4 linked regions of the Homo sapiens genome follow. The protein of the gene in region 1 purifies or fractionates together with the protein of each later gene. This does not show direct contact. Each region holds a gene or a part of one and is shown in the gene's direction. Other genes may lie near its edges.

The links. Proteins that work in one complex are often made in the same cells at the same time.
Region 2: the proteins of EPB41L5 (region 1) and BLTP3A purify together in Homo sapiens (co-immunoprecipitation; 3 studies listed by BioGRID and IntAct, with this or other methods). This does not show direct contact.
Region 3: the proteins of EPB41L5 (region 1) and CWC22 purify together in Homo sapiens (co-immunoprecipitation; 3 studies listed by BioGRID and IntAct, with this or other methods). This does not show direct contact.
Region 4: the proteins of EPB41L5 (region 1) and H2BC17 purify together in Homo sapiens (affinity purification with mass spectrometry; 2 studies listed by BioGRID and IntAct, with this or other methods). This does not show direct contact.

What each region holds. Positions count from the first base shown.
Region 1 is NC_000002.12:120,019,577-120,023,076, forward strand, and holds part of EPB41L5 (band 4.1-like protein 5), read left to right. Parts: intron 1-3,500. UniProt on the Homo sapiens protein: Plays a role in the formation and organization of tight junctions during the establishment of polarity in epithelial cells.
Region 2 is NC_000006.12:34,875,049-34,878,014, forward strand, and holds the end of BLTP3A (bridge-like lipid transfer protein family member 3A), read left to right. Parts: 3' UTR 1-2,466; downstream 2,467-2,966. UniProt on the Homo sapiens protein: Tube-forming lipid transport protein which probably mediates the transfer of lipids between membranes at organelle contact sites. May be involved in the retrograde traffic of vesicle clusters in the endocytic pathway to the Golgi complex.
Region 3 is NC_000002.12:179,969,298-179,972,797, reverse strand, and holds part of CWC22 (pre-mRNA-splicing factor CWC22 homolog), read left to right. Parts: intron 1-1,721; coding exon 1,722-1,857; intron 1,858-1,941; coding exon 1,942-2,148; intron 2,149-2,234; coding exon 2,235-2,297; intron 2,298-3,500. UniProt on the Homo sapiens protein: Required for pre-mRNA splicing as component of the spliceosome. As a component of the minor spliceosome, involved in the splicing of U12-type introns in pre-mRNAs. Promotes exon-junction complex (EJC) assembly.
Region 4 is NC_000006.12:27,892,184-27,894,391, forward strand, and holds H2BC17 (histone H2B type 1-O), read left to right. Parts: upstream 1-1,241; 5' UTR 1,242-1,279; coding exon 1,280-1,660; 3' UTR 1,661-1,708; downstream 1,709-2,208. Other genes in the region: H2AC17 (histone H2A type 1), read right to left, coding at 574-966. UniProt on the Homo sapiens protein: Core component of nucleosome. Nucleosomes wrap and compact DNA into chromatin, limiting DNA accessibility to the cellular machineries which require DNA as a template.

The sequences.
Region 1 (3,500 bases):
AGTGGATTTCTGACAATCCTTGTTGAACCATTATTAAAACGTTGTGAATCTTTGAGAATAACAACACTTAAATGTGTACTGTAAGACTTTTAGCTTCTATGCACTTCTGTATTTTTTAAAACTCTCCTTACTTTCTTCTAAATAAATATTTCCCCACAATTTGGTTTACTTGCAGACATTAATGAGGTGAAGTGAGAAAAAGGACTTTCTTCATACCCCTCAGCTCTGACTGCCTGTCTCTTTGCTCCTGAAGTATTTTGCATTGTAGGTTTTTCATACACTGTAGTCTTTATCTCAAGACAGGCTGTTGTAATTATATTTGCATTTTGGATAGATTTTTTTTTTTTCAGAAATATATAATCATAACTCAGTGTGAAACAATCTGACATGTTTGAAAGGGGTTAGCTTATTTTTTTACAGGACTTTTTGGGTGGAGGAGGGGAAGAAAAGGTTGGCTTTTTGGTTTTGGGCAGTTGAATATTTTTCTGAGTTGCTTGCTAATACCAAATCTCTTTCTCATGTCTTTGTTCTGCATTCAAAGACTTAACGGTAAATTACATCATTTGATGTGAGCTTCATAGGATATTCCTTAATGTCTTTTCTCCCCACAGACTTTTTAGTACACACTCATCTACCCAAAATTCAATTTAAAAAGTCTCTTTGGGCAAAGTGATAGCCTACGTGCTGCTGTAATACATAATTGAATAAGCTCGGGAAGACCTTAAACTCACCAAGTGAGAGTATAAGGAATTGGAGAGTTTGTTTAAATGGATGTTCTGATTAACTTAATAATTTGGAATGTATTAGATATGTACATTATACATTTTAAAATATTAGAATATGATAAAATTAATCAAAGACTCAGGATTTCTTGAAGTGTTTTGAAGTCATCATTACGTGTATTTGTTATCTTTGTCTATAAGAATGTATATTTTTAGGGTTTTTGATTCTGGACAACTTGAAAGCATCTAAATTTTCTTCCTGTAAGTGCTTCTTGAGGGTTTATCAGACATTCCAACATGAGATATTTTGTGAGGATAGTTTTCATACTCATTTCTTATTTGATAGGAATCTTAAGAGTTTTGTTTACTATTTCATTAAAATATCATTGGATATGTGGTGAAAAGCCTGAGATTGCTGTGTAAGAGACTGGAAAGAAATTTCTTATTACCTAATGTTTGAAGTATGAAGTTTCAGGGTTGTTGATGGACAAGCTGATAGTAGGAGAGTAGAATTTGTAAAAAAAAAAAAAAGAGGTTTTTAAAAACGCAGTGCAGTATGGAGGAGAAACAACACTAGCTTTTAAAGTGGTGGAACAAATGGCTAGTTACTGATCTGGAATGGTTTCCTAAACTTTGTATGCTTAGCTGGGTGTATGTGATGCTTGATCAAATTTATAAACTAGCTGGTCTCTCATGGGGACAATTGTAGTGAAACAGCTGGAGATATAGATTGGACTTTTTGTGAAACAAGAACAGTTGTCAGCCAGGTGCAGTGGCTTATGCCTGTAATCCCAGCACTTTGGGAGGCTGAGGCAGACAGAACCCTTAGGCCAGGAGTTCGAGACCAGCCTGGCCAACATGGTGAAACCCATCTGTACTAAAAATACAAAAATTAACCGGGCGTGGTGGCATGCGCCTGTAGTCCCAGCTACTCAGGAGGCTGAGGCAGGAGAATCACTTGAACCTGGGAGGTGGAGATTGCAGTGAGCTGAGATCGCGCCACTGCACTCCAGTCTGGGTGACAGCAAGACTCCGTCTCAAAAAAAAAGAAAAAGGAACAATTGGGCCAGGTGCAGTGGCTCACGCCGGTAATCGCAGCACTTTGGGAGGCCGAGGTGGGCGGATCACAAGGTCAGGAGTTTGAGACCAGTCTGGCCAACATAGTGAAACCCCGTCTCTACTAAAAATACAAAATAGCTGGGTGTGGTGGCGGACGCCTGTAATCCCAGCTACTTGGGAGGCTGAGGCAGGAGAATCGCTTGAACCCAGGAGGCAGAGGTTGCAGCGAGCTGAATTCGCACCACTGCACTCCAGCCCGGGTGACAGTGCGAGACTCCATCTCAAAAAAAAGGAACAACTGTCTTTCCAATTCTGTAGGTGAAATCGTACTTATTAACCTAACTCTAGGTACGTGCATGGATATAAAGTGGTCATTGGCCTGTTTTACTAAATTGTCACTAAAGGAAAAAATAGTCCAGAAGAATAATAATTTCTAAAAAAGAAGAAATGATTTCCCCTTTTCAGATTTATTTTCTCAACCAGTCTACTGTGATTCTGGGAGAAGATTTAGAATTGATTTTAGAAATTGAATGAAGCACATACTCATTTCCCATTACGATAAGGGTCTAGGATAAGGGTCACTAGTGATTATAGTTAGCCGTCTTCTTCCTTTAAAGAAAAAAAATTAAATAGGGTGAGAAGGCCTTTCAGTGAATGACAAAGGTATCAGGTAGAAATTTCTATCTAATTTTTAAGTTTTTTCTTTGAAAATACGACAGTAAACTTGTTTAAGAGCTTAGTATTGGTAAATAGCTTTAATGTAAAACCCTTATAAGTTTTAAATTGGGAAATGTTTGGTCAATTAACCAATAGATAACAATTTTTTTTCCTTTTTTTAAATTGTACTTTAAGTTCTGGGATACATGTGCAGAACGTGCAGGTTTATTACATAGGTATACACGTGCCATCGTGGTTTGCTGTACACATCAACCCGTCATCTACATTAGGTATTTCTCCTAATACTATCCCTCCCCTAACCCCCCACCCCCCGACAGGCCCTGGTGTGTGATGTTCTCCTCCCTGTGTCTGTGTGTTCTCATTGTTCAGCTCCCACTTATGAGTGAGAACATGTGGTGTTTGGTTTTCTGTTCCTGTGTTAGTTTGCTGAGAATGATGGTTTCCAGCTTCATCTGTGTCCCTGCAAAGGACGTGAACTCATCCTTTTTATGGCTGCATAGTATTCCATGGGGTATATGTGCCACATTTTCTTTATCCAGTCTATCATTGATGGGCATTTGGGTTGGTTCCAAGTCTTTGCTATTGTGAATAGTGCTGCAGTAATCATACATGTGCATGTGTCTTTACAGTAAGATGATTTATAATTCTTTGGGTATATACCCAGTAATGGAATTGCTGAGTCAGGTGATATTTCTGGTTCTAGATCCTTGAGGAATTGCCACACTGTCTTCCACAATGGTTGAACTAATTTACACTCCCACTAACAGTGTAAAAGCATTCCTATTTCTCCACATCCTCTCCAGCACCTGTTGTTTCCTGACTTTATTGATGGCCATTCTAACTGGCATGAGATGGTATCTCATTGTGATTTTGATTTGCATTTCTCTAATGGCCAGTGATGATGAGCTTTTTTTCATATGTTTGTTGACTGCATAAATGTCTTTTTTTGAGAAGTGTCCATTCATATCCTTCACCCACTTTTTGATGGGGTTGTTTGTTTTTTTCTTGTAAATTTGTTTAAGTTCCTTGTAGATTCTGGAT
Region 2 (2,966 bases), on another chromosome or scaffold:
CTCATAGCCTTAGTAAAGAAAGCACTTCTCATAGCAAATCAGAAATGTAAGGAGCTCATTGTCTAAGAAGGGATGCCACCAGAAACTATACATGGGTGCAGGTTTATGAGGAATCCTTGCATGACGGCCTTCTACAAGGAATTATAGAAAAGTAGGGCTACTTGGTAATATACAACTGAGAGGGTAACTGTGTCCCTCAACAAACTACTCCTTAGTGCCTCTTTCAAAGGCAGAATGTTGATCTGAATGGATCACTGGTCAAGTATGGCATCTCTAATGTTCTTGAAGGGGGAGGAAGGAGATCTGGTAGCTGGAAAATATAATTATTCCACGTTAGGCTCACCTGAATTGGTTTAAAATCATATTCTGATTCTCTTCTCATCCCTTCCTCCCCTCACCCACCATATACCTCTGGCATCCCTCCATGCAAAGAAATGTCGAATAGGCATTTCTTGGTATAATTTACCTACACTTGTGCTTGTGGGGTGGGAGTAAAAACATATCCAGTAAGTACCAAGGCTAACCTCCTAATGGCTGGAGCTCAGTTAGGTCTCTGGGCTCTCTAAAGGAGTCCAGAGCTCTTGTCCATGTCACAAATGGAGCCTTAGAATTTCTGTCTTTCCTTATGTGGCAGCTTTGGCCATTGTGTCTTGAAATTCTCCCTCAGGAAATGTGATAGGGGATATTATCCCATGGGATTTTAGTAAAAATCAGCTTGCCTAATTTCATATTCGTGTTCATAATGAAGAAATGCGAAGTGGTGGTAGTCCTCAGGATTAAGTGTAAAGGAAAATATGCAAGGAAAAAGTAGCAGTGTCAGCCCTTTTGGACTGCTTATGATTTCTGCCTTAGAGCTACAAGACTTGGAACAAGAAATAACAATACCTCAAGAAAATGTCTGGAGAGATAGCACCACTGTCCCTCAAAGACTTCAGCCACTGCACATTACCAATTCAGCTGTGAAGCATTTACAACTGTATTATCTGTGATTGTCTGCATTTCCTGTTTACATGCATGTGCTGGGGATATGCTTTAGTGTGTATGGACTAGAGTTTAAATCCTGTCTTTAACTGGGCTGCAAGGATGGCTATCAATCCCAAATTCTGTTTTCAACTCACTGGAATAATTAATCTGGTGTTCCTGATATAAAACAGGTGGGTTCTATTCACATGATGGCTGCTCTTTACCATATATTTCACCTGACCCTCATTTTGCCATGGGCCTCAACCTTTATGTGTGCTTTTTATGGCTCTGAAAGGACTGGCTCCCGTGTGTGGAATATACAAGGTATAAACACCACCCCTCACATACCCCTGTAACTTAAATGCTTCCATTTAACTCACTTAGATTACTTTCCCCTTAGTGGTAAACGGGTTGGGGGATGGGTGGTAGTGCAAAGAAGGTAGTTTGAAATATTGCCATAGTAATATGGGAACTTTTTATTCCAACCCTTTACCCTGGCTTTTTTTTCTCTCAATATTTGCCTAAAATTCTAAAATGAGTTATAGTAAAATCATAAAACTATGGAAACAACTGAACTTTGGTACACAAGTTAGTTCGATGACATCTTGTTATTTGAGAACAGTAAAAGGTGTGTCATTGCCTCATGATTTATCATAGTCATTACTAAGGGTTTCAGAGAGAATCTGGTGTGAAGCACTATCCTTTCAGACACTAAGGCCTTTACCTAGTTGCTCCCCTACCTTCTGTCGGAATAGGATTATTCCCATGCACCTCTGGGTAGGTATAGGTAGTAGCTATTGAACGGGGATTATTTTCCCCATGGCACAAGGGGAAACACTCTTGGATAACCTTCAACAATGAGGCTTTGCTAAGTGGCCAGACTTGGGATTTGATCTTCCTCACTTGTTATTTATTAAGTTTAAGCCTTATTCAGTATCTCTAATTGCAATAGATATAGTTCCTGTGACTTCTAAAAAAAATTCCTGTTAATGCTGAGACAGTATCTTTTTTGTCAGTTTATTAATTTTTGGTCAAGATTTAGCCTGAGTCTTAAAGCATTTATTTGTGGAATGCCCCACTGAAGTGTCTTCTCCATTGGCTAAGTACATGTTTAAAGCCATGGGTTTTAATGTAAGATACTTTCAGTATCTAATTCTGTTTCCCCCACTGAGGGTGCTAAAGAGAATTAGAATCTTTACTAAGACATGCTCAGGAAAGCTTCACGAGAGAACAGCTTCAAAATCCTCCCTATGACACTGAATGGTAGTGAGGAAAGAATTCTTGGGGATGCCAGTTACATACAATAGCCTTATTACTGCTAATCACTGTCAATAAAAGGTCACTTCATTCACCTCTATTTGAGGAAAACAATGAGAATGTATCTGATGAACTAGAATCCTTGTCAGTATTGGGAAATTTTAATGTTGCAATATCTAGTCAAACTTTGAGTGTACTGGTTCTGTGAACCACCTGAAAAAACAAATTAAATGTATTAAACCATAATGATTGTTGTATATCCGTTGATAAGAATCTGAAATATATGGGCTTTTATATTGTTTATTTTCATCTCAGTCTTGGGGGGGGAATTATTACACTGTTTTTAACAGTGCTTGAAGTACTCTTTTATGAGATAAAATTTTAATGGTTCTACTAGAAAAAGTGCTCAAATTTTCACAAAATAGCCAAAACCAGTTGTATTGGAACACCAAAAAAGAATGATCAACTTCCCATTCCAACCAGCTAGACAGAAAATGAATACACCTAGGGCAAGTTGGAAAACAGTTTAATGATCACTCACCAAAATCCACAGGAGAATCTTAAATGTTTACAAGCACCAATTATTCTGCTATTCCTGCCATTACCGCATCCTTCATGGTAGAGTATCACAAGTAAAAGTTTCTGGTTGTTTCATCTACTTAAAACCAGATATAAGAAACAACCTAAGTCTTAGCAACTTCAGGCTTCAATGTGAAACCATTAAAGCCCTCAGCACTTTAGGAGGC
Region 3 (3,500 bases), about 60 Mb from region 1:
CTGAACTCGTGATCCACCAGCCTCGGCCTCCCAAAGTGTTGAGATTACAGGTGTGAGCCACCACGCCTGGCCATATTTAATATTCTTTAATATAACACTTTGATGCTGATCAAAACACTTTAGATATTTATCAAATTAATCTGACTTAATACTGTACATGGTTACTTGACTGCAAACCATTCCTTTGAAGAACCATTCCCTTCATTTTTATAAAACAATAAAGTTGGTATCTCCTCCACTTCATTCCCTGCTGTTCATGAGAATCTAATAAATATCTGATATTCTACAAAAACCTCTATTCCTTGCAACCACACAGGTATAGTCATATATTTTTAGAATCACTTGATAGAATAGAGTTGATCGATTTTAATCTGTTTCAAATGCAGGTAATTTTATCATGCTGTTATTCAGTTTGTGTTTATTTTATATTCATTATTTGATGGTTTTGATTTAGCTTTTATTTAACCATGAAAATGCTAAAATTGTCCTTGCTCATACTCAAAAGTTTCCTTCAGATATATATTATCATTTCCAATTTAATATCATGTATAACAGGAAGAATTTTAAAGTCATGCTTAGTCTTATTTCACTAATATTAAATATTTTGATTCTTATTTACATGAAAATTCTTTCACTCTTACAAATCTTTTAGATTTTGACCTAATTAGTCATCATATTATTACAGTGATAACTTGCTACTTAAGACCATGGAAACTTAATTTCACATCTGTAACCAGAGATATATTTCCGTTTTTAAATGTGTATTACACTTAGACTAGAGATTTTTGGCATTGCCATGAAACACTCGATATGATAAATTTTTTGCATCTTCCAGCTGTGGTACAGGGCAGTATTTTCTTGTCACTGACCTAAGACTGTTTGACACCCCTCCTCCCCTAGTAAAAAGAAGTAGTGGGTGTCTTTGATGTTGTGCACAGCTGGAAGAAGATATCTCCTGAGTTGAGATTTAGACTTCTTTCCTCACCATCTTAAATCACTGTCTGACTTTAGAAAGGCATATGTATGGTGTTTTAAACATTCTTTGTTGTTCGTTTTCTTCTCTTAGCAAACTTCTCAATAGAATTTTATTCCCACTCTTCCTGGCATTGTTTATAAATGTCAGTTTTTGAACGTGGCCAGTAATAGTTTGATTTAATTTTTTAAAAAAAGATAGACTATTCAAAACTGTTGTGTTCCAGAAGTTGTTAAGATATTTTGTGATAAAATTAGTATTCATGTAACTTAAGGACTATTTGTGTCTAATAGAGTTGCTGATAGAATGAATTGGGAAATGTATATAAAGAATTGTGATCATGGAGAAGGGTATTATAAATCATATTACTATTTCTTATGTAGTAATTATGAAAATAATTACCTTATTAGAAAGTAGTATATGATTTTTAACATATTTTATCTATGACACTTTCCGTACATAATGGCTAAGAATATTTCTTCTGAAGATAATTCAAATAGTTGTATTCAGCATAGAAAATTAAGATTTTTGAAACAGTCATCTGAAAATTCTTAGTAGACAGATAATAAAAGTGATAGAAAAATTGTATCCCATATTTGGAGTATTTCCATGTGCTTTATAAAACTTTGCCCATCATATGTGCAATATAATTATTGTAAACAGATTTACTAATTTTTAGAAATTATAAAAATAATTTAATGTATGTAAAAGCATTTTGTTTCTTCCTTGTATATGTATTTTATTTAAGGCACACGAAGTATTATGCTTAGAGATGCTCACTTTGCTCCTGGAAAGACCAACAGATGATAGCGTTGAAGTAGCTATTGGTTTTCTTAAGGAATGTGGCCTCAAATTAACACAAGTGTCACCAAGAGGAATCAATGGTAAGTGTACATTCATAGTTTGATGTTAAGTTTTTATTATATTTATTGCTTATTTTATTGTCTTTTCTTTCTGTTAACTTTTAGCTATATTTGAACGCCTTCGAAACATTCTGCATGAGTCTGAAATTGACAAAAGAGTTCAATATATGATTGAAGTGATGTTTGCTGTACGGAAAGATGGATTCAAGGACCACCCCATTATCCTAGAAGGTCTTGATTTGGTGGAAGAAGATGATCAATTCACTCATATGCTCCCTCTGGAGGATGACTATAATCCAGAAGATGTTCTTAGTAAGTCCGGGGCATGTTAGTTGGAAAGAGGCTTACCAACAAATGTAAATATAGAAAATAAACATTAACTTTTACATTTTTTTTAGATGTTTTCAAGATGGATCCTAATTTTATGGAGAATGAAGAGAAGTACAAAGCTATTAAGAAAGGTATGTAAAATTTTATAAAATAATTTAGTTTGGATAAGTAGAAGCAATTTAAGTAGTTACGTAATACTGATAGCAAATATTTAGAGATCCCCACCTAATGAATCGCTGCTCTTATAAAGTTATTCTCTTAGCTGTTTCCTCGGGCATTATTTTTTTCCTGGTGCTTGCCCAGGGTTTTTTACTTCATTCTGAATTACTTACCCCATTGTTCTTTCCTCTTTCCCTCTAAACTATGCAACACTTACGTCTCACCCATCTTAAGAAATATTCATAGATTAGTGGTGGCCTTTATTTAGCTTCTCTACCATTTACATTCTGTGCCACCCAGTTTAGTATTCAATTAAGTGGTATACTTTATTGTAAAGTGCTATACTTTATTGTTTCTTGAGGTCAGGTTAATATCCTTCTGGTAGGATGAATCATAGTATTGGTGCCTCTCTGATAAAATAAATTGATCATTTTCATTTGTACATCATTGGTATATTGTAAGTACTAACTTTGGACAGGTTTTGATGTGTAATTTATCTTTGACATTACTAGCTGAGTGACCTGTAGCAAGTTACTTGTTTGTTGGAAGACTAAATGTTACCTTTCTATGGAAGGATATATAAAACACAGTGTTGTGTATTATCACCTACAATGATAGCTATTATTAGTTACTATTTTCACATTTGTATTATTTTCCTCCTAAAGCTAACACTCAGGCCTACTTACATAATAATTTTATGGGCTTATTTCTCTTGAGTTGTAATTTTACTGGAGAAGTATTTATTGCTGTGGAAGCAATAAAATTTACCTTTGTATTAAACCCCAAAAGTTTGTATTAAAAGCTCTCTGATTATAATAGAAATGTAAAGAGTTGGTTAGCTTTGCAAAATCTTTTATCAGGCTAACAGCACCATTGGGCAAAATGTAATTTTAGTTTTTGTCATTTGTTTGCTTTTAACATAAAGACCAGCCTTATGTAGTCTCATATACAGAGAAAGCAGAAACCTAGAACTCTGTCTCTGTCTGCATTCCATTGTTCAGTAGTGCTTAGAAGTAGAAGGTTGAAATGAAAAGTAAAATTGGGAGAAATCTTCCATTCCTCTGCATTATCCTAAAAACCTGTTATAATAATGAGTTTCTCTTCTTAGATGCTGATTTCCTAGGAGCTTTTCACTGTAATATGCCAGATTCTTTTTTTCTGTTATAATTTCATTT
Region 4 (2,208 bases), on another chromosome or scaffold:
GTCTCCTTAGTAGCGCTCGCCACCACGCCCGGCTAATTTTTGTGTTTTTAGTAGGGACAGGGTTTCACCATGTTTGCCTGGGTGGTCTCGATCTCTTGACCTTGTGATACACCCTCCTCGGCCTCCCAAAGTGCTGGGATTACAGGCGTGAGCCACCGCGCCCAGTCATTTTTTTTTTAAGAGGCAGGGGTCTCGTTATCAGGGTGGTCTCGAACTCCAGGTCCCTAGAGATTTCTCCCCTCCCCACCCACCTGCCTCAGTTTCCCAAAATGCTAAGGACGCATAAACCACCGCGCCCGGCCCCAAGTTTTTTAAAGACCCAGGACAGTTTGTGGGGAGGGGACAATTAAGGAGGTTCCTTCATGTTATAAGGTAGCAGTTGGATAGTATTTACTAGGCCTGATTCAATACTTTTATTTTACCCAATAGGAAAGTAATGGCCTCAGTGCTTGAACTCGGCCACAAATTTCTGATAGGTTTGGAGAACAGAGTGCTCAGTTCTTCCGTAGAAATGGTGGGTGGCTCTGAAAAGAGCCTTTTGTCTTGTAAGTTTACATTTTTAAAGTTCAGCCCTTACTTGCCCTTAGCTTTGTGGTGGCTCTCAGTCTTCTTGGGGAGCAGTACGGCCTGGATGTTAGGCAGAACACCGCCCTGAGCGATGGTAACTTTACCAAGCAGCTTGTTGAGCTCCTCGTCGTTGCGGATGGCCAGCTGCAAGTGGCGCGGGATGATGCGGGTCTTTTTGTTGTCGCGGGCTGCGTTGCCCGCCAGCTCCAGGATCTCGGCAGTTAGGTACTCCAGCACCGCCGCCAGGTAAACCGGCGCGCCGGCCCCGACCCGCTCAGCGTAGTTGCCCTTGCGGAGCAGGCGGTGCACTCGTCCTACAGGAAATTGGAGCCCAGCTCTAGAGGAGCGGGTTTTGGCCTTGGCGCGAGCCTTGCCGCCCTGCTTGCCACGTCCAGACATGGTAAAACGACCTGTGGCCTAAGTCAGAAAGTGAGTGAAAGGAACCTACAGGGACGCGCATTTTATAGCAGCTGCTGGGCGCGAAAAAGAAGCTGGGCCATTGGCTAAGCTTGCAGCTTCCTCTTAATGCAAATGAGCTTTCTGAATATACGTGTTTTGATTGGACTATATTGATATTAACGTCATCTGAGTAACTTCCAATCAGACAGAAGAATTTCTCAATCTCATCTGCATATAGACTTGTAAATAAATAGGGCATAACCCAGCTTGTCCTCATTCTTGTTATTTGAGTGCTCTTTCACTCTCCTCCGCCATGCCCGACCCGGCTAAATCTGCTCCTGCCCCCAAAAAGGGCTCCAAGAAAGCCGTAACCAAGGCCCAGAAAAAGGACGGCAAGAAGCGCAAGCGCAGCCGCAAAGAGAGTTACTCTATCTACGTGTACAAGGTGCTGAAGCAAGTCCACCCCGACACCGGCATCTCATCGAAGGCCATGGGCATCATGAACTCCTTCGTCAATGACATCTTTGAGCGCATCGCTGGCGAGGCTTCCCGCCTGGCGCATTACAACAAGCGCTCGACCATCACCTCCAGGGAGATCCAGACGGCCGTGCGCCTGCTGCTGCCCGGGGAGCTGGCCAAGCACGCCGTGTCCGAGGGCACAAAGGCCGTCACCAAGTACACCAGCTCCAAGTGAGCTCTCGCAGCTGCCAGCAATCCAAAGGCTCTTTTCAGAGCCACTCACGCTTCCAGAGAAAGAGCCTGTGCATTTTGCTTGTAGTCTTTTGGGTGGACTCCGGCCGGCCTCCATTAGGAGGGAAGACGGCGGGAAAAGGTAAGCTAAGCTCCCTAGGCTTTTTGCGTGTGAGTATAGACGCTCCATCAGACAAATTTAGCTTGGGTTCTTAGATACCCTTGGGGAAAAAGGCTTGCAGTTGTGCTTTAAGCTATAATTACAAGTTTGCTTTCGGTTTTCGGTTACTCTTTCCTTTTGTGTTGTTTTTTTTTTTTTTTTTTAAATGGAGTCTTGGCTCTGTCGCCCAGGATAGAGTGCAGTGCCGCGATCTCGGCTCACTGTAAGCTCCGTCTCCCGGGTTCAACCAATTCTGCTTCGGCCTCCTAAGTAGCTGGGATTACAGGCGCCCGCCACCGTGCCCGACTAATTATTGCATTTTTAGTAGAGACGGAGTTTTACCGTCTTGACCAGGCTAGTCTCGAACTCCTGACTTCGTGATCCACCCATCT